Homo sapiens: one gene and its partners. The protein of the gene in region 3 purifies or fractionates together with the protein of the main gene of each other region. This does not show direct contact. Each region holds a gene or a part of one and is shown on either strand. Other genes may lie near its edges. The genes, in order: SECISBP2L, MTR, INSYN2A and LRBA.

Evidence for each region.
Region 1: the proteins of INSYN2A (region 3) and SECISBP2L purify together in Homo sapiens (affinity purification with mass spectrometry; 2 studies listed by BioGRID and IntAct, with this or other methods). This does not show direct contact.
Region 2: the proteins of INSYN2A (region 3) and MTR purify together in Homo sapiens (affinity purification with mass spectrometry; 2 studies listed by BioGRID and IntAct, with this or other methods). This does not show direct contact.
Region 4: the proteins of INSYN2A (region 3) and LRBA purify together in Homo sapiens (affinity purification with mass spectrometry; 2 studies listed by BioGRID and IntAct, with this or other methods). This does not show direct contact.

Annotation. Positions count from the first base shown.
Region 1 is NC_000015.10:48,988,138-48,995,230, reverse strand, and holds the end of SECISBP2L (selenocysteine insertion sequence-binding protein 2-like), read left to right. Parts: intron 1-2,304; coding exon 2,305-2,987; 3' UTR 2,988-6,593; downstream 6,594-7,093. UniProt on the Homo sapiens protein: Binds SECIS (Sec insertion sequence) elements present on selenocysteine (Sec) protein mRNAs, but does not promote Sec incorporation into selenoproteins in vitro.
Region 2 is NC_000001.11:236,797,988-236,805,771, reverse strand, and holds part of MTR (methionine synthase), read right to left. Parts: intron 2,345-7,784; coding exon 2,130-2,344; intron 1-2,129. UniProt on the Homo sapiens protein: Catalyzes the transfer of a methyl group from methylcob(III)alamin (MeCbl) to homocysteine, yielding enzyme-bound cob(I)alamin and methionine in the cytosol. MeCbl is an active form of cobalamin (vitamin B12) used as a cofactor for methionine biosynthesis.
Region 3 is NC_000010.11:127,193,345-127,201,569, forward strand, and holds the start of INSYN2A (inhibitory synaptic factor 2A), read right to left. Parts: upstream 3,248-8,225; 5' UTR 2,653-3,247; intron 2,434-2,652; exon of another isoform or gene 2,207-2,433; intron 1,931-2,206; exon of another isoform or gene 1-1,930. UniProt on the Homo sapiens protein: Component of the protein machinery at the inhibitory synapses, probably acting as a scaffold. Inhibitory synapses dampen neuronal activity through postsynaptic hyperpolarization.
Region 4 is NC_000004.12:150,843,707-150,851,490, reverse strand, and holds part of LRBA (lipopolysaccharide-responsive and beige-like anchor protein), read left to right. Parts: intron 1-588; coding exon 589-767; intron 768-1,915; coding exon 1,916-2,069; intron 2,070-2,492; coding exon 2,493-2,673; intron 2,674-6,711; coding exon 6,712-6,833; intron 6,834-7,283; coding exon 7,284-7,391; intron 7,392-7,784. UniProt on the Homo sapiens protein: Involved in coupling signal transduction and vesicle trafficking to enable polarized secretion and/or membrane deposition of immune effector molecules. Involved in phagophore growth during mitophagy by regulating ATG9A trafficking to mitochondria.

The DNA of each region.
Region 1 (7,093 bases), on a different chromosome or scaffold from region 3:
TAGTGAAATGCCGCATCTCAAAGGCAAGCCATAAGAGAAACCTGTAAAGCTGTGGGTTTGGACAGATGACAGAGTAACAAATGATATGGGCACATATAAACACAAGTAGTATAAAACGAAAGTCTCAGAGATTGAGGTGATGTTTTCAGAAAGCACCAGATTCAAAGTGTTCAAAGATTGAAGCCTTGGTTTTTCTATACTCTGCCTAAAGGTTTTAGGTGTAATCAGTTAATCTCGGGGTCTTGGATTTCTCCTTAGAAAAAAAAACTGTTGAAATGTTAATGTGCATCTAAAATTTTTAAACATTTTGTGCCTTTAAAATTTTTTTTCATAATTAAATATATGTGGGAAAATTTTCACTTACTAGACTGTTTTTTTTTTTTTTTTTCCCCAGCACTTACTATATACCAGTCATAGGGACACAGAGATGAGCTGGAGTGGAAGTGAGGAGGGATGAGGAAGGTGAAACAGCAAACACAAAACAAGGCTTTTGACTGTATATGTAAAAAGTACTGTGGGAGTTCAGGTTAGCGATTGCCTGTCAGGAGTTAGGAAAAACTTCATGAAGGAACTAACATTTAAGAGTGGTTATCAAGATGAATAGGAGTCTGAAGGGGAAAGGAGGAAAACACATCTGCAGAAAGAGTACAGCTGATGTTCCAACTTTAGGGAACAGTGAGAATTTAGATGACACTGAGCATGGAGTGTGTGGCCTATGGCGCAGGGTCAGAAGGCAGTAGGACCAGAATGATAGATAAGGGCCAGATCATGAAGGGCTTTGCTGTGCCACGCCAGGGATTTTGGATTCTATCCTAGGGTGATAAAAAGCCAGTTAGACAATGATATAATCAGTTCACAAAACCGGTTACGAAGATGTTACAAATGAACAGCAAGAAAAAGAAGGCCTGAGCTAAGGGAGTAGTAAACAGATTTAGTAGTTTTTGAGCTACAGGTGTCATGGTATAGTGATGAATTCAGTGGACTAAAGGGATATAATACTAATAAGAGAGAAAAGTAGGATCAAGTGTTACTATAAGGTGTCTTCTGCTTTGAGATTGTGTAAATGATAATGTCATTAGCTGAGAATGAGAATATAGGAGGAGGTGATTTTTTTTTTTTCATAAGGTAGAAATGACAGTGGAAAGGACTCATTCTACACTAAAGTAGCTTCAGGAAAGAAATTTTTTCCCAAACAATGTATCCTGACTTGAAGTGCCCAAAACATGTTCTATATCAATATATAGGCCATAGATGGTGACCATATTGAACATACTAATGTGAATAGGTTTGCTACAACTTGATAAGAATATTATACCTATAAACTGCAAATAGTAGCTGTAATGTCAATATGATAGAATTTTTATTTTTTAAAAAAATTTGAAAAAATACAGGGGTGAGAGATCTTTACTGATTCTTGGTACTTTTTTTGCCTTCAACTGATTTCCTATCATGAGAAATAATTTAGTTTGTCATCACTGTAGTATATAATACTTTTTTTGTCCTCCAAAATCACTTTGTAAGCCAAGCTATATATATATATATATTATAAAACAACCTTTCACAGATGTTAGAAATGCATGGATGGATTCTTTGCTTATAATTGGAAACACATGTCCCATTACAGGCCAAAAGATAATTTAAATAACTTGCTGAGTGAGCATGGTACAAACACATGAATCAGAACTATTATTGCTGGACATCTTGGCTCTTCTATCTCTTGGGTTGTGGGTCCTTGAGCCCATTACACCTCTAGGCTACCAAAAAGTTAGGCAGTTTATTGATTTTCATGAATATATGGATTTTATTTGTGAATGCCAGTGAGCTCCTATTGGTATAAGATCTCTTGCATTCTGAAGCGTTAATATACTTATTTTTACCTCCCTGTTTCTTTATCTTGAATGTACATTTTTGGGAATTATTTTCCCTTTATAACATTTAAATTAGGTTGGGCACAGTGGCTCACACCTGTAATCCCAGCATTTTGGGAGCCCAAGATAGGAGGATAGATTGAGCCCAGGAGGTCAAGGCTGCAGTGAGCCAAGATCATGTTGCTGCATTCCAGCCTAAAAGAGCAAGACCCCATCTGAAACACACACACACACACACACACACACACACACACACACACACTCTCTCTCTGTCTCAAACTAGTACTAAATAAACTAAATTTGTAGTTTTTCCAGTCAGTTTCTAAGCCAACAAATTTATATATTTTGTTGTTCTTTCTTTTTTGGGGGTTTTTAAAGAGTTGCATGATTTTGAAACAGTGTTCTGGTTTTTAAAAAATCTGCTTGATACTTGTAGAAACAAATTGGAGAAACATGGTGGAAACTTCAGATGGACTGGAAGCATCAGAAAATGAGAAAGAGGTATCCTGTAAGCACAGCACTTCTGAAAAACCCAGTAAACTTCCATTTGACACACCCCCAATTGGTAAGCAGCCATCATTAGTGGCTACAGGCAGTACTACCTCAGCTACAAGTGCTGGGAAATCCACAGCAAGTGATAAAGAGGAAGTGAAGCCAGATGACCTGGAATGGGCCTCACAGCAGAGTACAGAGACTGGCTCTTTGGATGGCAGTTGCCGAGATCTTTTGAATTCCTCCATCACCAGCACCACCAGCACTCTTGTACCTGGCATGCTTGAAGAAGAAGAAGATGAAGATGAGGAGGAGGAGGAAGATTATACTCATGAACCCATATCTGTAGAAGTGCAGCTCAATAGTAGAATTGAGTCTTGGGTCTCAGAGACCCAGAGAACTATGGAAACCCTTCAGCTTGGAAAAACCCTTAATGGTTCTGAGGAAGACAATGTAGAGCAAAGTGGAGAAGAGGAAGCAGAGGCGCCTGAGGTGCTGGAGCCAGGGATGGACAGTGAGGCATGGACTGCTGACCAGCAGGCCAGTCCTGGGCAGCAGAAGTCCAGCAACTGCAGCTCGCTCAACAAAGAGCACTCTGATTCTAATTACACAACGCAAACTACGTAACTCAGGAAATGTCGGCTCTCTATCTCCAGCTGTGGAAGGGTTGCAGCCATTACCTTTTATGCTTCATCTCAACATTTTGCACTGTCCAGTATTTAATATACGTATTTAATTCCCAACAAATATTTTTGTAGCTTTTACTTGTTATGATCTGTAGCTTAGCTTTTAATTAGTATCTAAGTGTCTTTCTAAGAACTGTGTGGAAAATTCAGATCTGTTTCAGCTTATTTTGTAATCAAAAACAGTGATAAAAAGAAGACCAGATCTTAAAGAAAATAAATTTCAAATGCTTACTTAAAAGACATTTTGAAAGTTAAAGAACAAGGTTCTAAGGATAGAAGCAGTTATCAGTGTTTGCTTCAGGACTCCACCTCCTCTACTCTAATTTGACCAAAAAATTGTTTGGGCTTCTTTAAAAAAGAACTGGGGGTGGAGTCAGAAAATTAAATGAAAGGCTGAGGGTAACTAAGTCCACCAGTGTTGTATGTTAAAAAATCAATGCAACTTTTATGTGGTCCACAAATGTTTAGTCAGAAGTCACTGATTATTGTAATTAATTAGTGTTGGGATGGGCTAAAACAGAGCCTTCAAAACTTCGGCTAGCAGTGGAGCCACCATCTTAGATTATAGCTAGCTAGCCTCATTTGTGGAAAGTGATAGATGCTGTCTATAATAGTGAACAGTCACCCATGATAGGACCTCCAGGTTCTGTCTCATATTTGCTTCTTACTTACCTCAGGAATGCTCTTGTACATAGACTTATTTACAAAAAGCTAGGCACATGTTGACAGGTGAATAACTGTAACCGATTGTATGACTGCTGCACTTACATGTAAACTCTTCAGAAACAGAGTCTTATACTGGTGTGTTCTCTTGCATGCTTCTGGTTCAGGACTCTTGATTTGAGATATGGATTTGATTGAGTATCCAAACTTGTCCTGAGTGCAAAACTGTTTCACCTTTTAAAAAATACCTATTTTGCACCTAGCCTTGAGCACCTTCCACATAGCAATGACCATAGTTACTGTCAGGAGGTCAAGGAAAGGAACTTTGCACAACTTGTGACATGTATCCTGATAATCAAGGCTTAGAGGAGGAAGTTTTAGAAGATAAGAGAAAGTTGTTCTAATTGTGCTGAAACTATTAGATGATTTAGAGTATACAGATATGTAGGTATTAATTCTCTATTCACTATTATTTATCTCTGCCCTTCTCTAGGAGTTTGTATACCTGCTTAGGAGACAATAAATGAGCTAAATGTTTTATTTGCTAGTCAGTCACCACCTGGACTTCAGTGACTTTACAAGTTTATGTAATGGTGGAAGAATGACAAACTATGTAATTTTTTTGTCTTCCATCCAACTCCCCACCACCCCCAACTGTCCCCCCCACCCCCCTCACACACATGCACACATCCGTACGTGTGTGTGTTTTCCACTTACAAGCTTCCATAAGCAGGCACAAAACTGAGAAGGAAGGGGTATTATCCCTGCCCTGATTATCTGGGGCAGGGCTTTGCCTCACAGAGGCAGGAGAGAAGAATTGGGCAGATTCTTTACTGAACTCATTGGGACTACTGTGCTAGTTTTGATGTTTTATAATGCTGGCATTTAATTACTGGAGAGATTGGATTCTTGGTTGATGATTTAGTATTTGTGAATTGTGAAAGTTCAGGAGCTGTGTAGAAAATGTTAGTCAATCAACTTTATTATTGTGCTAAAAGGGGACATTCTTATACTGTCCTGTCTAAACTGTTCTCCAGTATAGACTTCCTAGGCACTAAATATCCAATATTTAAAGGAACACAGCAGGTAAGGAATGAAGCCTCTGAAATAGTACTCATGGATTTATACATGGCAGATCTTACTGTCTCTACACATTTGGAAGTGTTCGTTGGTTTAAAGAAATGATAGAGGTTTTGAACTACTGACAGTCTTAAAAGTGAATTTAAAAACTGTTCATACTTTTTATGGTGTAAATTTCCTTTGCTCGATGTCAGTGATTCAGATAACTCTTGACCTTGAGATGATGGCTTTTCACAGGTTTCTTATATTTTATATCTCTTCTGAACATGAATTGTCATTTTAGATTTTTGACATTTGTATCAAAAGAGAAGTTGAGGAAATCTTCAGAACACTGGTAACTTTTAGTTTTGCTATAGACTTCAGAAGTGTTTATTTATATGTTCGGTAAATGCTCTCGCATATGCAGTACCTCTTCTGCCAGCAAATCCAAGGGACCATAGCCTTTTTATGAGACAGGTCACCTCTAGAGGACAACCCAAGAATTATTAAAGGAAATGTTACCATTTTGAGAGCATGCTTAAATAAATATTAATAATGTCTTTATAACTTGTTTCCTTTAAATTTTGGAATATTGAATTACAGGCTTTGGAGGAGTTGTGAAAATTAGGAAAGTTTTTATATATTTTTTGAAGTGGGCATGGTTGGCTCTTTGAAGACCTATAAAGAGATCCAGTGGGAAGAGTAAGGGTTGGTTCATCATCACAAGAAATAAAAAACATAGTGATTTTTTCTCTTAATGTGTAGAGGTGGTTTTACTGGCAATAATTAATAATAGATTTCTATTTCAGTATGTAAGCATATTAACTAAAATATGAATTACACTTCCAAAGTTAGATTTCTGCTTCAGTAGGTTTGTTTGCTGTGAAGATTACTTCTCAAAAGACAGATGTTCATATTAGCTTAATTTTCGGTTTAAATATGTTTGTAAATGATGTAATATATTTCTTTTGACTAAATGTGGAAAAGTAATGTGTGTTATACATTGAGAAGTTTTTACTGGCTTTGACTGGAGGTTGTTTTTGCAGAGATGGTATTTTATATGATTCCAGTATTTGGAAAAGAATTAGTCAAAAGGAATTCACATAGTTTAAATACTGAGAAATTAATATCCAAATATGTACTTGTCTGATTTCTAAATAAGCTGGGGGAGGAGGGAGGGGTGGGAATTGAAATGTGCAAATGAGTAGTGAATGCTACACTCATTTTCAACTCTTTAACATGAAACTGTTCAATCTTAACACATTGTTACTTTAATATATGTATAAAGAAGTATTACTGTTTGTAAAGCTGCTGTTTGCTTAAAAAAAAAAAACACCCTTGTCATGTATTTTCTGTATGTTGGGCCAACAGGTTAGAACATCAACTCATTTAAAAATTTTTATCTTTTTTTGATTTAAAAAAATTCTGTGAAATAATTTATTTACAGACATCTTCCTCCTCCCTCATCCCTTCCAACCTTTACATACATCACAGAATCAACCAAACTGTTTGCCTAATCTGAAATCTGAATCCTAATGAGAAAAATTTAAATTTTGTTGGCACATCACACCTTGAAAGTATTTGTATTATTTTATAATTTAATTTCTAAATATACCACATAAGTTTATAATTTAATGTCTTAATTGTAATGCTCTAATAAAAAACTAGCAAAATTAGTGTGAGTTATAACATGAAGGGATTTTCATCTTTTGCTGTATGAAGGATAATTGTTATATCACATTTGGGGGGTAATAACAGCTTTTTTGCACTATGTAAATACTAGTGGGGATTCTTCTGTACTAATAAAATGATTATTGAAATGAAATCTGTCCTTTCAGAAGAGATACTTCAAGAGTTCATGACTCCCCACAAGTAGAAGACAGAAAAAAGAGTCCAGCTTGAGTATTGATTGGTGGTCATATGGAGTTGCCAAAAAAGGCTGTAAAATCGTCACGAAGGAGTTAAGAATAAAAATCTCCATCTGGGATGGTTGGTGTGATCTGCGGCATGGGCCCAGGCGTTTAGCCAGAGACCATCCTGGTTATTAGGAGAAGGCTTCTATAGATTCCTTCACCTTTTTATATTAGTTCCTCTGTGCTGGGCACTGTTCTAAGTCTTTTCCCAGTATTAACTCAATCCTTAAAACAGTCCTGTGAAGTAGATTTTGGTTACTATTTCTCACTTTTCAGATGATGGAAGAGTCATGGAGATGTTAACCCAGCCCCATACCAAAGCCCATGCCCCAATCACTGTACTTTGTTATGTCTTGGCATAAGGTGCACAGGGTGTGCAAGGCAAACATGCTTCCTTCACCTTCAGGTGTCT
Region 2 (7,784 bases), on a different chromosome or scaffold from region 3:
AATCATAGCACTTTGGGAAGCCAAGGTGAGAGGACTGCTTGAGGCCAGGAGTTCAAGACCAGTCTGTGCAACATAGAAAGACCCTGTCTCTAACCAAAACAACACGAAAAATTAGCCAGGCATGGTGGCACATGCCCGTAGTCCCAGCTACTCGGAAGGCTAAGGCAGGAGGACTGCTTGGGCCCAGAGGTTCAAGTGAGCCACAGTGGGCTAGAGTGAGCCACGGTGGCACCACTGCACTCCAGCCTGAGTGACAGAGTGAGACCTTGTCTCAAAAAAACAACACCAAAAAGATAATGCATCAAATGTCTGGCACACAATGGGCACTCAACAAATGGTAGTTCTGTTCCCTTATCTTCTTCCTGCTTTGGCAGAACCTGATGCCCACCGAGAAGTATACCATCTCAGAGATCTCAACCTCTGACCACAATTGTTCAGTCTACATCTCCTAGTCTCTCTGAACAAGCATCACATCCCTACTGAAACCCTGAAGATCTTGATGCTCCTTTGTGCTCTCTTCGAAACTCGTCTCCCTGGCTCCACTCCTTGGATCATCTCAACCTCAATCTGACTAGCAACCTGGAATCCCTTGACCCCCTTGATTTTCCAATACTGAATAAACCCAACCCCTCTTAAGTCGATGGACAATGGTTGCAGAAGCACTGGGAGATAAAAACCAAGATACGCACATTTATAGTAACAATAACAAACATCCGAAATATCTACCCATAGGGAAACAGCTAAATAAACTAAAATATATCCACTTTATTACATGCCATGTGACAGCAAAAAAACTGTGTATATCTACAAATACTGACATGGAAAGATTCTGCAAAGTATTGTTAAGTAAAAAAAAAAATAGAATGATACGTAAAGCATGACACCATTAAATTAAAAAAACATACACAGAGTACTATGAGTTTTCTACATATATATATTCACTCACGTATACACACATACACATATATGAAAATGCCTAACAAAGGAATCTGGGACGACACACACCAACTAATATCAGTGGTTATCTCTGGGGAAAAAATAGCAATTTAGAGTATGGTCAAATGGGAATGTATTATCTACGAGATTTGTTTTATAAGAACTAATTTAAGTTTTTTTTAAAAGAACAAGAAAAACTGAAAATAAACTTAATGCCTAGGAATAAGGAGATTAGTTAAATAAATGATGATATATACATGGAATAGATTATGAAGTTATTAAAACCATGTTCCAGAATATTTAATACTCATGGTATATAAGTAAAAAATGCAAATTATAAGACAGTACGAAGCAATGTAATCCCAATTTAATTTTTTAAACTCCAAGTATAGAAAACTAGACTAAAATACAAAATACATGAATGATAATTGTATCTTAGAATTTTATAATGGGTGAGCGCCAGCTTTCTAGTTCATAGACAGCATCTTCTCACTGTATCTTCACATGGTGGAAGGGGTGAATAAGCGCCCTTGAGCCTCTTTTATAAGGGCACCTCCTAATACCATCACACTAGGCATTAGGATTTTACATATGAATCTCATGGGGACACAAACATTGAGAACACAGCAGTGCCCTTATAAGCACAAATATGAGAGTTTTTTGTTCTCTCTCTGCTCTCCGTCATGTAGATACAAAGACAGCTATCTATAAACAAGAGGGCCCTCACCAGACACAGGATCTGCTGGCACTTTGACTGTGGACTTCCAGCTTCCAGAACTGTGAGAAATAAATGTGTGCTTGTATAACCCAGTCTATGGTAACAGGTAATACAGCAGCCAAAGCTAAGATACCAACCACCTTTAAGCATTTCTTCATCAGGGCTGTTGCAGTAACTTAAATAAGATAGTTTTCTCACACTCACTAGTGTGAAAACCCTTATTTGTCCAGATTCTCATAGTTTTTCACTAGAGTTTACATGCCTCAAGGGCAGAAAACCTACCTACCTCATTCCCTTATCCTGAGTGCTTAACACAGTACATAACTTTTATTTGATGTCCAAAACCTGCTTTCTGAATAAATTGCCTCTTTATTCTTTATTCTCCGGAGCACTCGGCATAGCAGCCTGCCCTGATACATGAAACAGCTTGCAGAATAACAGAATGAATACACATGGGAACCTGGGAATACTTTACCTTATGGATTTGGTAAATGACATCAGGCTGAGTTATACTTAAAATGTCATTGTTGCCTTTCAGCGGCCTGGCATGATCTTTAAATTCCTGACCTCGGAAGTGTTCTTCGTTTAGCTTCTCCCGCTGGATCATGGTCCCCATCCCTCCATCCAGCACCATAATCCTCTTCTGCAGAATGGCATTGATCTCATCCCGCAGGGTTTTCTTCAGACCTTCTTTAAAGAAAGTGAAAGTTTGACTTCAAAGAATGAAAGGTGAAAAAGATGTGTGAGGGAGGAGCTTTAGAGAAATTTATAATAATCTCCAATAAGGAGTAAATGGAGTTTATAAAAGATGCACTCATAACTCTATATAGGAAAACGCTGCCCAAAAAGGTCATTAAGTCGTGACAATGCCTAATACAAGATTGCACACAGCACAAAATTCCTGGTGAAGCACGAAACCAAGGTGAAGGTAGGCTACACTACTCCTGTTTTACAGATGAGGAAAACAGGCAATAATGGGCCAGTGATACAAGACTTTGCTCTCTTTCCTTGTTAATTCTGTGCAGATACTCCCTAAATAAAATGATTTAGCAGAGATAATTGAAAACCATCAATAATTCCAAACTATTCTTTAAAATATTAGCTTTGACCTTCTCCCTCACCTATTGCCAGAACTAATAATGGCCTGCAAACAGAGTTTTACTCACCTCTGCCCAACTATGAAATAATAACTGGCTAACACCCTTGAACTTCTCAACTCTCCCCATGCTCCTTGACTTCTAATTCCCAGTCCAGAAAAGGGCCCAATGCTTACTCCTTCTAATCCTGCTTTCTGGTTTCTACGACCTACTGGAAAGCCACAAAACTATGCTGACTGGAGTCACTGAAAACTTGCAACGTTCAGCCTCCTTTGGTTCACCTTTTCTTGACCTCCCTCAATACTTCCAACATCTACTGTCCCAATTTCTACTTTTTTTTTTAGCACCAAATCCTTTTCCTCCTCACTCCACAAGTGATTTCACCTAATCCCGTACAAAGAAGTTTTCTGTTGGAGGCTCCTCAAACTCACACCCTCTCCACCTCAAAATCCTCTTGCAGTCTGGCTCACTCTATTTCCCTTCTTTCTGTACCTAAGGAAAAGCGCATGATGACCAACACCTCCCACTGCTCCCTCATCTAGCCCTTCCCACTCCCACAGTTCCACCTCAGCAACCACCGATTTCTTATCCTTCTGACATGGCTTCCTCCTCCACCACTCTCCTGAAATTACTTTCTAAAGTCACCAATGACCTTCTAAATATCAAAAACACCTGGCCCCAATCTTAGACCCAGCTTTTAAACTGTCCACTGGATATGGCTACCTCAACTACCCACCTGCCCCTCAATCTAATATTCAAAACCAAACTTGCATATATTCTCTGTCTCATCTCCTGATTTCTGTAAATGGCAACACCCTTCCCAGAAGACTAACCATAAAATCTCAGTATTATCTGACTCCTTATTCTCCCTGATAACCAACATCTACTTAGATCCCAAGCCTTATAGATTTGGCCTCTAAAATGCCATGCACAATGGTCCCACCTTCCTCGCCCTGTGACAACCCCTTTCTTCAACCCCTTACTACACAGGCCAGCTATCACCAATCCTCTCTGAGCTCTAGTTTGCATCCATGCAAATGAGATCATACATCTATGGAAGTGCCTTGTAAACTATCAAGTGTCCTACAAAGGTAAGAGATCACCACCATACCCAGTCGCCCTGTGTTCTAATCCATCCTGTGCACCACTACCAGATTTATCTTCCTATACAACAATTTTAAACCAGTTGCTTCCCCTGCTCAAACACCTTCAACAACTCCCTATAGCATATCAGACTGAATACATGTTACTCAAAACAAACCATAATGACGCCAACCCATTCCTTCTGTGCTAAGAGGCGAGAAAAGCTCAAGTCAAATGGGGCTGGTTCTAAGCTATCTGAGCTCCTTGGAACTCATGCCTAGCAACACTAAGGTCAGTACTTGGCAAATATTTCTTTAATTGAAATGACAAAAAAGTGAGGGAAGATGAGAAAGAAGAGGCAAAGATAATTTAAAACCCAAACCAGTAATGTAAGAATATTTGTAAGCTGGTATTGGGTGCAAACTTACAACCCTGCCTCGTCTTACTGTCCAGAGTCTCAAGTATACAATATGAGAACTGGGGCTAAATGGTGGTCACAGAACTATTTTGAGTGACTTTCTCCAAGTGGGCTTCAGGAAGGTGGCTCTAGTAACCTAAAAGAAAAATTTGCAATATCCAATATCTAGTTTCTGGGCACTATGTTTCTTTCAGGGTGTACTATTCCTTTCCAAAGCCACCTCACTTGCTAATTGTGTTTACTGAACTTGCAGGTGAGATAAAACACTTCCTGATAAAGGAACGAAGTTAAGCTCCAATGATCTGTACAAAAGTACTTCAAGAACCAAAGAAAATCACTTCTTGGGAAATGTGGAGAAAAGGTAGGGCTTAATGAAGCATGTATAATAGAAAGACTGGTAGGCATCAGGCAGTGGGCGCCATTTCAAGCTATAGTCGACACGGTAAATTCACATGTAGTGTTAATTTAGGCACTCCATGATGTGACTATCCTATCAGCCAATAAGCACTCAGAATTTGATAGGCTTAAGCTAATAGTAGCAGGGTGTGAAAACCCAAGAAATCTGGGTTTTAGCCCCAGCTCCCCTTAGTAGCTATGGGATTTTAGACAAGTCCTCTCCATGCTTCAGCAAGATGAGGAAACATCAGCCCTGCCTTCATCATCAGAACTGTGATACTAAAATGAGACCATGTGTTAAGAACTGGACCTCTTAAGTCACACAAGTCATGAAATGAGACATTGGTGTTTGATGTATAGTAAACATCTGATAAATATTAGCTACTCTTATTATGTTGGTATTATAGCACAGCAAGGACTGAAGCTCTAAAGATTGTGTTCTATATATTACAAAGCTCAGTGGGCTGTGAAAAATCATGTAAAGCCTGAAGCTCTCAGTTGGTCATGTTGGGGCAGGAATGGCATATTTGCAGGTTGGGAAATGTCTTCTAACAGTCGAGTGAAAGAAGAAAATACTCAGTGAAAGCTGTTAAATGTAGATAATTTCACAGGAGGAATGAGAAGACTAAGAACTAAAGACTCTAACCTACATGCCCAGCTGAATCGCTTTCTTCTCAAAAGGATGTAGCTGCAATTCTCCCTGAAATGACATCACGTGAACTTAAGTGGGTGACTGAATCATAAGCCTAGTGTGAGCATGAGGTGTGGCAGTGGGGAAATAGGTCATGCACATGAAATTTCATATTTAAAAGGTATTCAAACTTCCTAGGGAGAAAAAGGCAATCTTTTCCACAGACAGTGAAGTATGTCCTTTGGCATCGGCAAAATGATTAATCAATATCAATCAATATCCTATTATTTACATGTCCTTCTTCCTATCTCCTCCACTGAGCGAGTGCACACAAGTTGAGCAAATCTAACCACTCAGAGTGCCTCCACCCCTCATTTTCATAAAAAGTCTTAGTACTTTTCCATGGGGCCCTTACTGTATTCCCTTTTCAATCCAGAAATAATAAGCTTTGTTTTTGGACTTTAAGACAGTTCACTATTTACCACAAAACAACCCAGCCCCACACATGCAAATTCTGGCATCTTGTTTGTTGAGCCACCGTATAGGCAAGAGATCAAAAGCTGTTTAAAAACATCTGCTTTGGTTTTTCAGAAACCTGACAAACTTATTGTATAATTTATTGGGAAGAACTTTATGACTTCGAATGAAAAGGAACTTCTTAAGACTCAAAAAGACCAACCTCTTAATTTAAAAAAAAAAAACACAATGAATTTGATTACATAAAAACCAAGGATTTCTGTTAAACGAAAGTCACCATAGACAAAAATAATAGACGATGGGTTGGGGGAGATTCTTCAATGTCTAAAGCTAATTTGTTTTCTTATTGATTTGTGTTAGTTCCTTGTACATTCCAGAATGTAATATACAATGTGAATTAAAAATACCTATAGACTAGAGTTTACAACAAAATGTATAAATATATGGATATATGTGAAAAAGGCGGTCTATGGAAACAAGAGAATTGTGAATAGAAAATACAGATAAAAAGGAATATATAATAAAACACAGGAATTTTGCAGCCTGAATAAAAAACTCCTATGCAACTGAGGCCCTTAAAAATCCATTACTTGGGCTGGGTGTGGTGGTTCACACTTGTAATCCCAACACTTTGGGAGACCAAAGTAGGTGGATCACTGAGTCCACGAGTTCGAAAACAGCCTGGGCAACACAGTGGCCTCATCTCTACAAAAAAAAAAAACAAAAATTAGCCAAGCCTGGTAGTATGCACCTGTAGTCCCAGCTACTAGTAAGGCTGAGGCAAGAAAACTGCTTGAGCCTGGGAAGTCGAGGCTGCAGTGAACCGTGATCACGCCACTGCCCTCAGCTTGGGCAACAGAGTGAGACTGTCTCAAGAAAAAGGGGGAAAAAAAAAAACATAGTTTCCTCAACTACTTGCTTATTTTTCCTTTAGAGGATAATGTAAGATTTCCCATTTAGAGAAACTAAGAAGTCTTCCTTCAGAAAATCTGTTGGTATTAAGTGTTCACTATTTTTAGCCTTCTGTATTCCTCCAGTTTTTCCAGTAGGAGGTCATTTTTCACTGGGCTTTAATTACCATTCTAATTCACCAGTTTCCAATTACTATCAGAACTTGCTCAAAAGAATAAGTCACCTTGACAATTCCTTCCCCTGGCAGAGTGGGGATCTACTGAAATGTCACTCTTCCATGAAGAACAACAAAATTGTATTTATCTGTATTCAGTTCATTAGGTCTAGAACATTCTGTATACTTAACTACTGACTAGTCAAGTTCTAAATAAAGCAGATTCTTTCTGATTATCTTTCACAGTAAATATAAGAATATAGTTTTGCAGTTCCTTTACTTAGCTGACTAGTTATAACACTATTTCAGAAATATTTTTATGTTTAATGTATATATGTAAATAACCGCAGTGCAGAGGAGAGTCCCAAGGAACATCCTTGGCTAGTGAGCCTAAGAGATCACACAGTATTTTCTCCAGTTTTGAGTGGATTTAGCCAATATATTTTGTGGGGTTTTTTTCCGTGCCCTTAACATCTTATTTTCTAGCTAACAATATTCTGATTCACAGCAAGTGTTCCAAAGAATAAACATAGGTATAAGTGGTTAAAGCCCTAGTCAGATTTGGAGGGGGGTAGACCAGCTAGTACCACCTTTAAGAACTAGCCTAAAGAATGACAAGATGAAGGCCTAAACAAATAAATTCCTAATATGTGCATGTAAGTTATAAATTGCAGTGTCAAGAACACATCTGCTCTGAAGGTAAAATGACCCCAAATAGATCTGACTTACTTAGGACCCCTCTTTCCACTGTGCTAAATGGGGAACACATACAGCAAAAGCACATTTTTATTTTCTGCATTATAATCAAATGATCCCAAGGCTTTCTCAGCACTGTTCTTTCTTTGCTTTATTAAAAACAATCTTACTACTGCCCTACAAGTCACTTGCAAGATACTTCTCTCTTTCATTTTTGGATCTCTAATTTCTAGTTTGCACAGACTTGCTACACTTTGTTTTTTTGG
Region 3 (8,225 bases):
AGCTTCTTGGATGCTATGGACGCGTTGAACAGCATCCTTCACAAGCGTTAAAATCCGTGGTGAACCTGTCACTGCCCTCCTACGTAAATATCTGACCACAGAGCTGCTGCTTTGGGAGGTAGCTGTGATCATTTCTGTATCATGAGTCTCTGAGAAGCATAAGTCACCTGCTTCTCATATTCCAGAGTTCAGTAGTTGTCTCTAAATGAGATAGCCATGGCTGGGCGCAAACAAGAGAATACAAATGTCTACGTGAACGGGTCTGTCCTGCCACTCCACTGCGATCCGTTGTTATTTCTGAGAATCATTTTGATTTTTGGACTGCTTATTTCAGTGTGTAGGAGTCTTCCTTGTAGATGAATGCCTTTCACGTACAAGTCTTTCTCTTATTTATTGATTTATTTAAAAATTTTTCCCTACAGAGGGAGAAACAAAACACAAAAATTCCCTTTCCTGCCACAGGGGAAAACAACTGTGGCAAAACAGAGAAGCCCCCGAAGTAAACAGAGTAATAGAGTACCCAGCCTCCCATAGAGCTTGCAGAAATCTCATTGTGCAGACATGGAGCTTCCCAGCTTTTGCCTTGTTAGCCTATTTCTTAACCAGTAATTCTGTTTCTTAATAGGATAAAGGGCCTGACTTACATGAAAGCTCAAAGTCTTAATCACAATGATAAAATACAAAGTCGTGGCAACTGTAATAAGTTTAAAGACATATGTAGCTTTTCAAGGACATCTTGTCTTTAAGGAAAAGTCTTTCATTTAGCTAAAGAAATTAAACTGAATTGTTTAGTCTTTTAAACAAAATGATGAATTTAGTGAAGAAAACAAAACTCTCCATGGCTAATGTAATTTATGCAAAATCATGCAATTAGTGATAGCTGTGCTAGACTTTTTCTTTTCCTTAACCAAATGCGCCTCTAATAAAACCATCGTGAGGAGCAGTGCCATCTAATGTAAGTAGTAAACATGGATAGTAAATGATTAATATCTGGTGAGGCATGCAGATGGCAGGACTTCCATTTTTTCTTTGAGCTCCTTGTGCATGTTTGCTAATCATTCTTGCAAAAAAATTGCAAAGATAAATATGAACTTTCAAAAGTAACATTCAACAGGATATGAATGTAAGAAATAGTACAGTGTGGGGGAATAGTAAAAACCAGCACTTTCCGCCTCTGCATAGTGAAATGACGGTAACTTGCTGTAGCGTAAGCTTAATAAGGGTTATATCATTTTCATGTATGTACTACTCTGGGAATGGCCCGGGTCTTGTGAGTGGTATTTTTTCATCAAGTACCCAGCCAGCGCAGTCACTCTGACAGTCCCCCCACTGAGATAAGGCATGGAAAGGTAACCCTCTAGCAAGTCCTCGTTGAGGGGGGAGCGTTCAAGTGCACAGACGTCTACCCTGTGCTATCCTGAGCTGTAGTCTTCTGAAATGATCGTTTGGCTTCCCAGCCAAGGCAGGGCTCCCCCAAAGTTCATTCCCACTCTTGCAGTTTCACCTCGGGATGCTTCCGCAGAATTTCAGCGCCTAAGCAGACAAGGTCAAAGTAAACCGCTTCACCGCTGCTTCTGGCGCAGGGGCCCAGAGCGCGTGCAGCTCCCCAGCACAGACCAACAGCAGGAGAGGGGTCCGGGCGGGAGCCCTGGGCTGTAGATAAGCAAAACGCACCCATTTTCTCTCCTATTTACTCCAGAGGCACCTCTCCTCCCCCACTCCTGGCATCTCTTTATCACTGGCTCCCTCTCCCTGTGGCATATTTTTGGGTAGTAGAATGCTGAGGTCACAGGGAGCGGCTCTTTATCCAAGCAGTGGGGACATCAGCCTGGAGCCCTGAGCATGAACCAGCAAGATGCAGACTCTCGCTCTTGACTTTGGGCTCCAGGAGCTGCCCCGACCCCGGGCTGCCCGCGGGCTCCCTCCTCCCTCCTGCCCTCGCCCGCCAGCTCGCAGTCTCTTAGGTCTGCAGCGTTGGTTGGTTTCCCACGCCTGTCCCGGTCTGACTCGGGCTGCCAGGCACCGGGAAGCCCCGCGGCGCCGACCCCAACCCGCAGCCCCGGGAAGGTGCCAACCCCAGCGAGTGGAGGAGACGAGCATTTCACGTGGGCATCTGCCTTCACTGCTGCTCGCGCCTCTCCTCAACGGCCGGCGTCAGGGCCCCTCTGTTCCAACTCATCCCCCCCCCGAAGTTAATCAGCCGTACTTGTACTTTCCAGGGCGCTTTAGTTTGGAAAATACTTAAAAGCCTCGAAACCTTCCGGGGAGACGGCCGCCCCCAGATCTCCCAGTTTTGCCTGGCTAGGGCTGTCGGGCGCTCACGAAGCTGTGGCGTCTGTCTGGAACCCACATCGCAGAGGCGCAGCCCCGCTCCTCCCTGACGTCGCCAAAGTTGCCAGACGCCCCTCAGCGACCCGGTCGCGCCAGATGCAGTTGCATAACCTTGCCCCCCACCTGCGACCGCACCGGGTCCGCTCCCGGCTGCACCGGGGTGTCCCGGCCCCGGGAGCCGCCGAGTTTCCGGCCAAGCCGGTTTGGGGCCGAGTGTGTGCGCCCGAATCGGGGTCGGCGCCCGTCCCAGCGGTGCTCTGCCCGCGGCCAAGTACGACGGGCGCGGGGGCGCGGGAGGAGGGCACGCGGGGCTCCGCTTACCTTCCGCTGCTTACAGATAAGTCGAGGTCGATGCAGCGCCTGGCTCGGGCATGTCTCGCTGCGGACCCTGGCAAGCCTGGGGCGGCACGGAGCACTCCGGACAGGGCATCCGCGGCCAGACTCGCCGCGCTCACGCGGAGGAAGCCTCGGCTCCGGGGACTTGGCCCGCTGCGCGCCTGCTGCCCGCCCCCTCCACCGCTGCCGGCCCGGCCCTGCTGGCCCGGCCGGCCCCCGCGCCGCAGCTCGCGTCGCTCGCGTCCCTCCGGCCCCGCTTAGCGACGCGCGCGGGGAGGCAGCGGCTGGGCCAGCTCCGGGGACGCCCGCGCGCTCGCTTGCTCGCGACGCGGCGGAGCCAGCCACAGCCACCCGGCTTCGCGCTCCTCCGATGTCCTCATTTACTGCAATTGTCTTCGGCGAGATCTCAGAGCCAGGGCCAGGAGGCGGGGGCGGGGCAGAGGAGGGAGCAGGAGGGAAGTCCTTTCCGCTGCTCCAGGTCCCAGCTACTCCGCGGAGCCGGGCGGCCAGAGGCGAGGGCGCCCCAAGCCGCGCGCCTGCCGCCTGTGCGCCCGGCTGGCACCGAGGCGGGCGGAGCCCCGGGCCCCGCGGGGCGGAGGTGGGGCGGGGGCGGCGCGGGGCCGGGCCGGGCCGGGCCGCGTGCGTGGGGTGGGGGATAGGGAGGGAGTGGAGGAGCCCCCTCCCGCCGCCGCCAGAGCTGGAGGAGGAGGAGGAAGAGGAGGAGGAGGTGGAAGGAGCTGCCGCCGGCTGCCGCCGGCTGCCGCCTGCGCGCGGGGCTCCGCCACAGCGCGTCCTCCGGGTTTCTGGGCTGCAGGCGGCGCTGCATGGCCCGGGAACTTGTTGAGTCTACCCTGGAGCCGCCTCCGGAGCAGCTGGCGGGCGGGGGACTCCGTGTGTTCTCTCAGGGATGGGGGGTCGCTGGGGACCCTGCTGCATGACTGTCTGCTGTGCCAGCCAGCCTGGCCCGGCGGGGCTTTGGGAAGCCAGGCTTGAAGGGTGCGTGTCTTGTAGGTGCCTGGCCGCTCACCTGCGGATGCTGCCTTGTAGAAGCAGGAGTTCGGGGATCCTTTCAGTGCTGGCTCCAACCTGGTGTCAGCCTCTCTACATGGGGACAGGAGGTCCTATGAGTGGCCTGAGGACTGAAGTGGGAGGGCCTGCCTGGTAATGTTGCATGCTGACATTTAGGGACACTCCAGAGCAGGCGCCACTGCCACTCCTAGCCAGGAACCCTACCCCCCATCCAGAGCACACACCACCCGTCAGCAGAAGCCACAGGGCGCAGAGGCTGAGTTCCTTTGTGGCAGAGTAGAATTCTCTTGGGAGAGGAAAAGACCTAGGATGCACACGGAGCTATCCCCGCCCTTAATTTCCCACCCACCAAAGAGTATTGGGTGTTTTGAGCTCAGAGCAGCAGACCCAGGGGCCCCTCTGATGCCTGTCAGGCCCTGGGGTCTGGGCCAGGGACTAAGCAGCCAGCCGAGTGCAGGGCTCCTGGCCCCCTGGATTTGCTCCTAGAATGTAATGTAAAATGTAAGTAGCCACATTTATTAGTCTGTTTCTCAGGAAAGGTCAGAGAAGTAGTGGACCCCAGGGAAGGGACAGGCTTCGGAGAGGAAATTGGGAGGACAAATGGAAAGTCCCTTCACCCACCCACCTCTCCAGACACATCAGTGGGCAGTGAGACCTCTTTGCCTATACATCCCTGAGTCTCTGCACCTAGCACCAGCTCTGTGCCTGTGACCAAGCCATAGCTCCATCCTTGTTCGCTGAGCTGAACTGAGCCTATCACTGCCTTATAGAGTGTCTGTTTTTTATAAATGACTTTATACGAAATACCTTCTTTGTATGTGGATGCTTTGGGCAGTGTGTCCAGACATTTCAGAAGAAAAAAAAATCTAAAATGTCATCTATTTCCCTCTTTACCCCGCAGCATCCTTTGGTATACAATTTTGCCAGCCTTGGGGATCCAGATATGCCCAGGACGGGAGTCCTGAGCCTGTGGATCCAAACTCTGCCCACCTCACTCTTCTTGTTGTTCTTCTTAACTCAGATCCCCCAAGCTGATTTTCCAGCTTACCAGGGAGGCTGTTGGGAGCTGGCTGGAAAGAGATGCTTAATTTTGTGTGAGCAGTATGGAAACTGCAGTCCCCTCTTCTGCCTGGAAGGGGCCTGGGAAGGGAATGTATAGGAGTTGGGGACGTTTAAAACCAGATAGGAGAAGTTGCCACTCTCCAGCATGTTCCCTTGGGGATGTGCTGTTGCAGCTGTGGGCTCCAGTAATTTTCCCAGTGGTCTGGGGAACTTCTGTAAATCTTACTTTATTGGCAATCCATAAAATTGAAATCTGCCTTCCGTCTTTTAAAGTGACTGTAAATAAAGCTGCCAGGAAACTTGGGCATTGGGCTGGTAGTATCAGAAGGCTGAAGTTTTCCGGGACCAAGAGTGAAAACAGGTCAACATAAATGCATGCCCAGCAAGGCAGTGCTCAGCCACAGGTGGCACTGTGAACTGGCAAGAAAACAGCTCCAAGGACAGTGCTATCTGAGATTCGCATGATGTATAACTCCAGGAAGAAAATGGAAAGCCGTAATTGGCAGGTTAGAAAATCCACTTACATGAAGAGGAGAGTATAACGGAATTCTGTAGCATCATCAGGACTGCTTAGAGTTGTTCAATTGTGTAGTAGACTTACAGTTGTTTTGCTAAGTCTATTAAAATCATTGGCATCGCTTCTTTTTTTTTTTTTTGAAGTAGGAAACCATTTACATATTGTAGTGCTTAAGTGCATGTCTTCAGCATCACAAATCAAAATATTGGTGAAAACTTGCCTCACCTTACCTTTGGCTCTGGAGAGATATTCCACATGGGTGAGGTGTGTGTCATCATGCTCCAGGCTTTAAAGCAAGCATCATGCTGGGGGCTGGCTGGAGAGAAGGGAGTTTCAGCCATCTTCCTGCCCACAGATCCCTCTTGCATTTTTTTTTAATAGATGGGATGTAGGCATATTTTTAGGGTCTAGAATGAGTCAATATGCTCGGCTTCCTCAGGAAAAAAAAAAAGTGAAACTTGATAGATTCATTTTAGGAATCAATTGGTATTGGCTTTTTATATTTTGCTTAAGATTTTTGTTGAAAAAGATAGACTTGCAAAGGAGAAAATAGCTACTTTTCAAGTGGGATTTCCTAAAAGCAGAGGAATAAAAATAAGGGAAAGTTCAAGACGGCTAACTAAGCAAAATATCCACGTCTCTCTTCTTTTGCCTTCTTCTTGGAATTGTGCAGGGGTTGTACAGAGAATTGCTGGAATTCCACCCCTATGGTATAGTGAGTTTGAGGTCTCAATTTCCACATTAAAAAGTCAAGAATATACAAGTCAAACATGTTCAAGAATGTTCATAACAGGTTTATCTATATCTGTTCCAAACGGGAAATAATCCAAATACCAGTCAACAGTAGATAAAGATTTCTTGGTTCTTCGTATAGTGGAATACTAGACAGCAACCCAAAAGCACTAACTGCTGATGCATGCTTTGGCATGGAGGGCTTCTACAAAGGTGCAGAACAAAGGAAGCCAGACGCCCAGTGTTTATGACATGATTCCCTTTAGATGAAGTCCAAGAATGCGACAAAGTTATCAATGGTGGAAAATATCAGAATGGGGATTACCTTTGAGGCATACTCGTTGCCCGGGACCACAGCAACTTCACTGGTGCTGGATCATTCTGTCTCCTGCACTAGTTGCTTATGCAGTTTTCCACCTATATAGAAATTCATGGAGATGCTTCCTGTCTCAGTGTGACCTCATTTGTCTGAGCATCATCACTGTGTCATTGCAATGTCCACATGCATGCTCCCCAATAACCCTTACCCCTCAGTGAACCAGTGTATCTGTCAGTGTGATTAACCTGTATCCTCTCCAGTGTGCAAGGCAGGAGAAGAGAAAAGTGTCTCCAAACTAGCAACTGCAGAAGAGGAGCCTTCCAGTTTAGCTACACAGCAGAACTTCCTTCTTTAGGAGACTGCCGATGAAACGCCTGCCCTCCCAACTGTCCGATGTCGCTGTGACAGAGCTCGCTATGGACGTGAATTTTTCTTTCCCATGTCTTTGTTACACAAAAGCGGTCCCGATCCAGATCCCAAGAGAGGGTTCCCGGATCTCACACAAGAAAGAACACAGGGCGAGTCCACTGTGCAAAGTGAAAACAAGTTTATTAAGAGAATAAAGTAGTGAAAGAACAGCTACTCCATAGACAGAGTGGGACATTCCCAAAAGTAAGAGGAGGAATGCGTCCAGCCTAGGTACAATACTCATATATATGGGGAGCTCTGCTCTGCTACGAGGGTTTGTGATAAAGGATTAAATTTCTTAATTATTATATTTTGCAAGAATCGATATTATCTGTTTTCGTTTTTGTTTTTGTTTTTGTTTTGGAGACAGAGTTTCGTTTTGTTGCCCAGGCTAGAGTGGCGTGATGTCAGTTTACTGCAACCTCCATCTCCCATGTTCAAGCAATTCTCGTGCCTCAGCCTCCTGAGTAACCTGTAACCACGCCTGGCTGATTTTTTGTATTTTAGTAGAAATGAGGTTTCACCATGTTGCCCAGGCTGGTCTCCAACTCCTCAGCTCAGGCAATCCACCCATCTCAGCCTCCCAAAGTGCTAAGATTACAGGCGTGAGCCACTGCGCCCGATATTATTATCTTTAAAGTAAAATTAGGAACGCCTTTGTTCTCAGGATGTCTGGATATTAGGACACTCCCAAGTCTGGGTCTGTTTAGTAAACATCACCAGTGTGTTCCCTTAACCTTAAACATCTAGAGGTGAGGAATGCCTAACTTTCTAAGAATGCAGCCCAGTAAGTCTCAGCCTCATTTCTCTAGTCCTCACTCAAAATGGAGTCGCTGTGGTTCGGATGCCTCTGACATCTGCATATTCCAAAGAGACTCATAGATGAGCCCAACCTAAGTCTGTGATGGGCAGGTTACACCCGTCAGTTCAGAAGCTGTGGTAGCAGATCAGCCAGTGCTCAACGCCTACGAGGGAAAAGTAACTCATATCGCCTTCGACCTGTAGGGTCGAGATCATTCCCTTGGGGACACTTTAGCCTTGTCTTTCAAGAACAAGACAGACACAATCCTCAAGGTGCCCCAGTGGGGCCTCCTTTTCTGCCGAGAAGCCCTGCAGGAAGGCTTTCTGCATCATTCCCCTTGTCATATTCTGCTCGAGCCTTCACTCTCCTCTTTCTGGGCTTATTTCTGGTTTAAGACTCTCGCTTTGTGTAAAGCCCCTTGCCCGTGGCTCTTGCACGGTCCTGGCAGCCGAGCCGTGTTTCCTTCTGGTGGGAACCAGAGCTGTTTCTGAGGTGCTGGTCCATGTTCCAGGGCCATGCCACTCCTCTGGCTTTCTTTTCCTTTCATGGTAAGAAACTAGAGATGGTTTATTGGCCTGAAATACAAATTTGTTTTGGAAAACCTGAGCATCGTGAGGACTCGTTGAGATCCCTGGCTTTCTATGATGCATCATTGTGAATCTGATTTATCCACAGAAATGGAAGGTTTT
Region 4 (7,784 bases), on a different chromosome or scaffold from region 3:
GATTTAAAATTGTATTATGAAGTCTATAAGAGAGAGGAGGCTTTGTGAGATCTAGAGGCACAGCCTTCTCCTCTGTCCATATCTCAGAGTGACCCATGAGACAGTGCTTGGTAGCATGTTGTCATTTTCCACTTTATTCAATTCTTATCCTCTGTCCCACCCTCCTTTTTTTTGTTTTTGTTGGTTGGTTCTTCATTATGTTATCTCTGTTTTTATTCTTCATTCTAGCCACTTCATAATCCAAATGCCACTTAGATTCTAAATACTGCCTTTCTTTTAGGCTAAGGCTAAAAACTAAGAACTGTTACTTGATTCTTTTATAAAATGCTACATAGTGGTAATACTTAACATGGTTCCAAGTTAATTACTTTTAAATTGTGGTAGTTTTGCACTTTTGATAGCTTTGCTTACATGTACTAAAATGTTAATGTTATTACTCATTGATAATTTTTCTTTCTCTAATTTGGTTCTTATAGTGTCTTAAAAACGTGTTAGATGAATTGCATAGAAGCTACTAAATTATTTACTTTGCTAAAGCCTCCTGCTGAAGTTGAACCTATTTTATTACTTTTTAAATTTCTGTATTAGATATCAAGGCAACATGAGCAGCCAGGGCAAGGAATAGCACCAGATGCAGTTAATGGACAAAGGAGGGATTCCAGATCTACTGTGTTTCGTATTCCTGAGTTCAACTGGTCTCAGATGCATCAACGTTTGCTCACTGATCTATTATTTTCAATAGAAACAGATATACAGATGTGGAGAAGGTTTGTCTATATGTTTATTATGGAAGATGTGTATAAACCTAGTCTTTATTTTCAAAGAAATCCATAGAAACAGTTTGTAATTAATTTCAGACATTTGGTTAAAAAGTAGAATAGAAATTATTCTATGGTAGGGTTTTACTGAATTCACTTTTATTCTCCATTATAAGAATGGAATCCTTATCTGGATTACAAAAATGTGAAAAGCAGAGGTTTCTCTTTTAAAAAAATTTGTAGTAGATTTCCTGTAGCAATTTTATGGCACGGAATTCACCAGAAGGTAGGTTTATCAAGTTGGTTTATTACTAGAAGTATTAAAAAATAATTGGTATAGGCCGGGCGCAGTTGCTCAAGCCTGTAATCCCAGCACTTTGGGAGGCCGATGCAGGCGGATCATAAGGTCAGGAGGTCGAGACCATCCTGGCTAACACGGTGAAACCCTGTCTCTACTAAAAATACAAAAAAATTAGCTGGGAGTGGTGGCGGGCGTCTGTAGTCCCAGCTACTCAGGAGGCTGAGGTAGGAGAATGGTGTGAACCCGGGAGGTGGCGCTTGCAGTGAGCTGAGACCACGCCACTGCACTCCGGCCTGGGCGACAGAGCGAGACTCTGTCTCAAAAAAAAAAAAAAAATTGTTATAACATTATCAATATTTCCAATGTATTTTTAGCATTAAAAAAAATCTGTGTACTTCAAGTTATCCCCCATTGTATGATTTATGATTTTAAAGTGACCTAATTTATTTTTTTTTATTTGTGTAAGATTCTTGTTATGTTTAAAAGCATTTTATAGGCATTACAGAAGAAAATTCATTTTTAATAGCACATTTACCAGTATTTACCTCCTAATTTTTGTCACATGATTTCTTAGTTTTGTTCCCAGTAAGGATAATTTTCTTCAACTTTTTATATCCAGTGTAAAATGAATAGTATTTATGTTTCAGCACTGAAGGAGGGCATGGATAGTAACTACTGATATGGAATGGTCTGTTTCTTCTGAAGAAGTATACACCCTCCAAATGCCTGCTGCATCATCTTCCTTCAGTTTTCAAGATGAAGCAAAAGCACCTTCTTATCTTTCCTCCCCTCAAGTAGGCAAACTGTGATTTCCTTTCTTTAGCTTTATCAGTAAATATCATTTATCTTTGGACAGCCATTCAACAAAGACAGTTATGGACTTCGTGAATAGCAGTGATAATGTCATCTTTGTACACAACACAATTCATCTCATCTCTCAAGTGATGGACAATATGGTCATGGCTTGTGGGGGTATACTGCCATTGCTTTCAGCTGCTACATCGGCTACAGTAAGGACTTAATTACTATAGAAAATTGGTGTGAAAACATGAGTGTTATGCAACTTTATTGACTAAAACTTAAATGTGGTGGTTACTATGCATCGTAGGTGCTATAAATAAAAAACAATAGGATCTTTTACTTGAGAGGACCTTAGAATCTGTTCTAGTAATGAAAGAACTTAAAAGAATGTTGATTCCCTAAGTATGAGTCAGCTAGTGAAGAATGTGGTTCATGATGTTTCACCTGTATGGTTCTGTTGCTCCTCCTCATCCCCCACCCTTTTTAGATGAAATAATAAGTATAAATCACTCTGTGTTACTAGGTTTCTGAAAGTCTGACTACTTATGCAATTTATAAATTTTAGGACTATATCTGGTAAAATTTTTTTTTCAGAATATATATATATAAATGTCAAACTTTATTCTTTACAGCATGAACTGGAAAATATTGAACCTACTCAAGGCCTTTCAATAGAAGCCTCTGTGACATTTTTGCAGAGGCTAATTAGCCTTGTGGATGTGCTTATATTTGCAAGTTCTCTTGGCTTTACTGAAATTGAAGCTGAAAAAAGTATGTCATCTGGAGGAATTTTGCGGCAGTGTCTCCGACTAGGTGAGCTGCTAAAAACCGTTGGGAATTTACTAAAAAAAATTTTTCAGTAATTCAGAGATGACATTGAAAATTATCCGTCTTCTGTTGGTGAGAAAATATATGTTAGCTAATTTGTCATATGGTTACTTTTTTTAATGTACATAGTAGTAGTTGGTAAGTTGGATGGGCAAGAAGGAGGATGTATTTTGAAAAATTTACTAAGGTGATTTTGGTCAGGAGTTTCCACTCTCCCCTATCTTTTTTTTTTTTTTTTTTCTTTTTTCTCCCTGAAATGGTGGTTCTGCTTTCTTGCCAAGGCTGGTGTCAAAATCCTGGGCTCAAGTGATCCCGCCTCCTTATCCTTCCTAGTAGCTGGAATTAGAGGTGCTCCCCTATCTCTTTTTGCTCTAAAGTAGTGCTTCTGAAATTTTAAGGAGATACATAAACTTAAGGTGATTAAAAAACACAAGGTGATTCATAAATTTGATGATCTTGTTAAAATGCAGATTAGATTATATAGGTCTAGGCTGGGGTGGTGGCTCACACCTGTAATCCCAGCTCTTTGGGAGGCCAAAGTGGGTGGATCCCCTGAGGTCAGGAGTTCAAGACCAGCCTGGCCAACATGGTGAAACCCCGTCTTTACTAAAAATACAAAAATTAACCAGGTGTGGTGGTGCACGCTTATAATCCCAGCTACTTGGGAGGCTGAGGCAGCAGAATCGCTTGAACCTGGAAGTTGGAGATTGCAGTGAGCCAAGATCACACCACTGCACTGCAGCCTGGGCAATTGAGCGGGACTCTGTCTCAAAAAAAAAAAGGGTTATAGAGGTCTAGGGTAAGGCCTAAAATTGACTACCAAGTCCCAGGTGATGTTGATGCTGCTTTTCTTACAAACACACTGGAATAACAACGTTCTAAACTAGCATCATTCAAGTACAGCCTTTATTCAAAAAAGCTGTGGTAATTTGTTAATGCAGTTAATAAAATCATGAAATCTCTGTTCTTCTCCTGGAAACACTTCTTCCCTAAGTAAAAGTAAAAATACATGAAATGACTTTTTAATGTTAACTGGACTTCTTAGGTGAAGCAAAAAACAAAACAAAAAAACCCTTTTTTGCATAATTTTCCTTCTATATAGTTGTAAATATCGAGACTTTGTTAAATGATTTGATTATTAAGTGAAGAGAAGGTGGTGAGGAGAGAAGGCACAAGAAATGGAAGCAAACCATTAGGAGCCATGGTCATATGAAGAGATAAAGCACCTATGAAAACATAACATGGAAGTGGAAAATGTAGTTAATGACATATTTTTTCATATTTAGCAAGAATGTCTGTTACATAAACTAATGTATACCTGTGCTTTTTGCCACAAGTATAATTTTTACTCAAAATGCTATTCAAAGTATTTAATAGTATTAGTTTAAATGTAAAATTCCAAGTATTTTATATTTAATAATCAATGGTATATCTTGCTATTCTAAGTAACTTGGAATAACAATTTATAGACAGTTGTTTTAAAATTTAAGAGACATTCTAATTGTAAGCATAACAAAATAAAAGTTATCATTTATTGACTATTGTCATTTGTCATTGTTGATTTTCACGGTGACAATTTTGTTCTTTTTATTCATGAGGAAATTGAAGATAAAAGAAATTGGGAAACTTATCTATAGCTAAAAAGCTATAATTGGTGAAGGTAGAATTTGAATACTATACTTTTGTCTAACTAGTGCTCCTACTCTTTCTATTGTAGTATACTTCTTTAATCTATTAGTATTATAATTAAAATATTTAGACTTTATTGCTTTATGTGTGCCATTTTCGAAGGCTTTTCACTTTCCTAGAAAGAGTACATTTCTAGAAGTAAAAGTGCAAGGCTATACTAGCAAAGCCTTACTCAAGAATCATCAGATTCAGAGGCTAGGGAAATACTCTATGTTCCTAGTTTTTCATAGCCACGGAAAAGAATTAAGAGATAATTTAATCCACCCCAGTACCATCTGTTCTTATATATGGAAATGGGACTTAAAAAATGACTTGTCCAAGATCATTTAATAGAGTATGGTAAACAAAGTAACAGTCCAAATGTGTGATATCTTTTTTTTAAATTGTATTTGTGTAAATTTATGGGGTACAAGTGCAATTTTGTTACATACATGGATTGCTTAGTGGTGAAGTTAGAGCTTTTAGGGTATTCATCACATGAATAACACACATTGTACCATTAAATAATTTCTCATCATCAGACCCCCCTCACCCCCTCATCCTTCTGAGTTCTGAGTCTCCATTTTCTTTCTTTTTTTTTTTTTGGAGATGGAGCCTTACTCTGTCGCCAGGCTGGAGTGCAGTGGCAAGATCTGGGCTCACTGCAACCTCTTTCTTCCGGGTTCAAGCAATTGCCCTATCTCAGCCTCCTGAGTAGCTGGGACTACAGGTGTGCCCCACCACACCCGGCTAATTCTTTGCATTTTTAGTAGAGACGGGGTTTCACCATGTTGACCAGCATGGTCTCGATCTCCTGACCTTGTGATCCCCCCGCCTCGGCCTCCCAAAGTGCTGGGATTACAGATGTGAGCCCCCACCGCTGGCCTGAGTCTCCATTTTCAATCATTACGCACTCTACTTCCATGTGTACACACTATTTAGCTCCCACTTATAAGTGAGAACATACAATATTTGTCTCTCTGTGTCTGACTTGTTTCACTTAAGATAATGATCTCCAGTTCCATCTATATTGCTGCAAAAGACATGATTTCTTTCTTTTTTACGGCTGAATATTATTTCATTGCGTATATGTACCACAGTTTCTTTATCTAGTTATCTGTTGATGGACACTGGTGTCCTCATTCTTGTTTCCTGAGGTTGGAGTTAGAAGTTAGGATGACAGCAGTAAGAGTAACTGATTGAAACCAGGAAATGAGGTGTGATTTTTAACTTTGTAATACAGACTCAAATTTGATTTTATGCAACTTGTGAAAAAGTTTGTATGAAAAGTATTTCCTGGGTCTGATAGCAAATTTGATAAAGTAAAATATTTCTTGGGTCTGATAGCAAATTTGACAAAGCTGTATTCCATATTCTCTCTTCCCTCCTCTTGTTCCCTCCTTCCTTTCTTTCAACTTTTATTGCTCTCTTTGGGCACCTTTCAGAACACTTTCTTTCTAAATTCTCATGCCTGCTAGCCATGTGATAGGCCAGTGATTCTTTGTGAAGTCCCCCCTTAAGTTTGCTATTTTGTTCCTAATTTGCTCTCCCTCCTTTGCTCAGTTCAAGTACCTTGAGTGCTACAGATTTGGAGGGAATTTAGATGATTACATGGTATCAAGCAATTCATAGTGAAGGGTACATAATGTAATTCATCATTTAAAATCCAAAATTAATTTCTAAGTAATCTAACTGCCTGATTCGTGGGAGCCTTAGGTAATTTTAGACTGTATATTAATCAAATTCCCTTTCCTGTCTCCCATTTTCTAAGCAGTTTTAATGAAAGCTAGTAAATGCTGGACCCTATAAAGCTTCTTTCAAAAGCTATATCCTCTATTAGTCTCAATTAATATCATGCTGTAATGATGCAATATAAGAAGAACATCAAAGTTTCCAGTTTAACTAATTTACTTTAATGATGGTAATAGAAGATTGTTACCTCGACTAGTTCATGGTAATGTACTTTGTTCCCTGTTTTCTTCCATTTCTTTCAATTCTTTTCTTCCCTATCCTTTTCTTAACTAAAGATTGTCCCAGCTAGCTTAGTTGAGATCTAAGAAATAGTAGCCTATTGTTAAGATTCCTGAACTGATTTCCTTTCAGCAAACCCTAAACGTTTAGACCACTAGGCCATACTGCCTCCCTAAATCTTAACTGGGCCACAGCATGGAAGCTAACAATATCAGACAACCAACACTAGGCGATAAAGTCTAGGGACATTTTAGGAATAAGCTGAATGTCGTCTGTTTTGAATAAAATCTTATGTAAATCATATTGTGTAGTTGATGTTTTTCACTTCCATAATCTTAAATATTAACTTTTCTTTCCCTATCTTTTCCTTAAAATAAATTACAGTTTGTGCAGTCGCAGTAAGGAATTGCTTGGAGTGTCAACAGCATTCACAACTGAAAACTAGGGGAGATAAAGCCTTGAAACCAATGCATAGCCTTATTCCTTTAGGGAAATCTGCAGCGAAGGTAAGTATACAGATTAATTAATTTTCAAAAAGCATACTCCTATTTTACAATTAAGATTTTTATTTGTTCATTTCAACATAAAGTTAAATAAATCTGGCAGAGATTAAAATAGTTACTTTAGGCCTGCATATAACATTCAAATATTTGTGTTTAAATACACAATAAAGATTTGTTTATATTTAAACCTCTCTGCTTTTCCCAGTGTTTACTTTGATTGTTTCTGTGATGCCTTTTCCTTCAAATATGTCATTTTTTCCTGCATGCCATCTTTCTCCACCTCTCTCCCCAACCCCTCAAAGAAGAAGGAAGCATACACACAAAAAAAGTGGGGAAAGGAATGCTATAGCTTTGCTTTTCTGGTTCTGGGAATACTGTGTTTATTTTTAAAGAATATCTGTGTAATGTATATATGAATATATATATATACAATTTTTTTTTAATCTTAAATAGAGCCCAGTGGACATTGTGACTGGCGGTATATCTCCAGTAAGAGATCTTGACAGGCTTCTACAGGACATGGATATTAATCGGCTTAGGGCAGTTGTTTTCAGAGACATAGTAAGTTACAATATGTCTTTCACATACTCTCTTAACTGATGCATATTTCCTCTTAGGCCTAATGTATTGAGATTAAAAATTCTTTGTGATATCAAATAGTGGAGCAGAGATAGAAAGGTCTAGAAACGACTTCTTTTGACAATGATTTTAGAAACAGAATATTAGAAAAGATAGTTTATATAAAGCGAGCTAGCAGATCAGCATAGTGATATTAAAAGGAATAATGCATTATTACATAGTAAGCAGTCTAAGTGATATACATGTATTAATTAAGTCCAACAACTTATTGAGCTGTACTATTGTAATTTCCATTTTATAGATGAATAATCTAAGGCACATAAAGCTTGAGTAACATCTCCAAGCTAGTGTTGATAAACAATGATAAAATCAGGA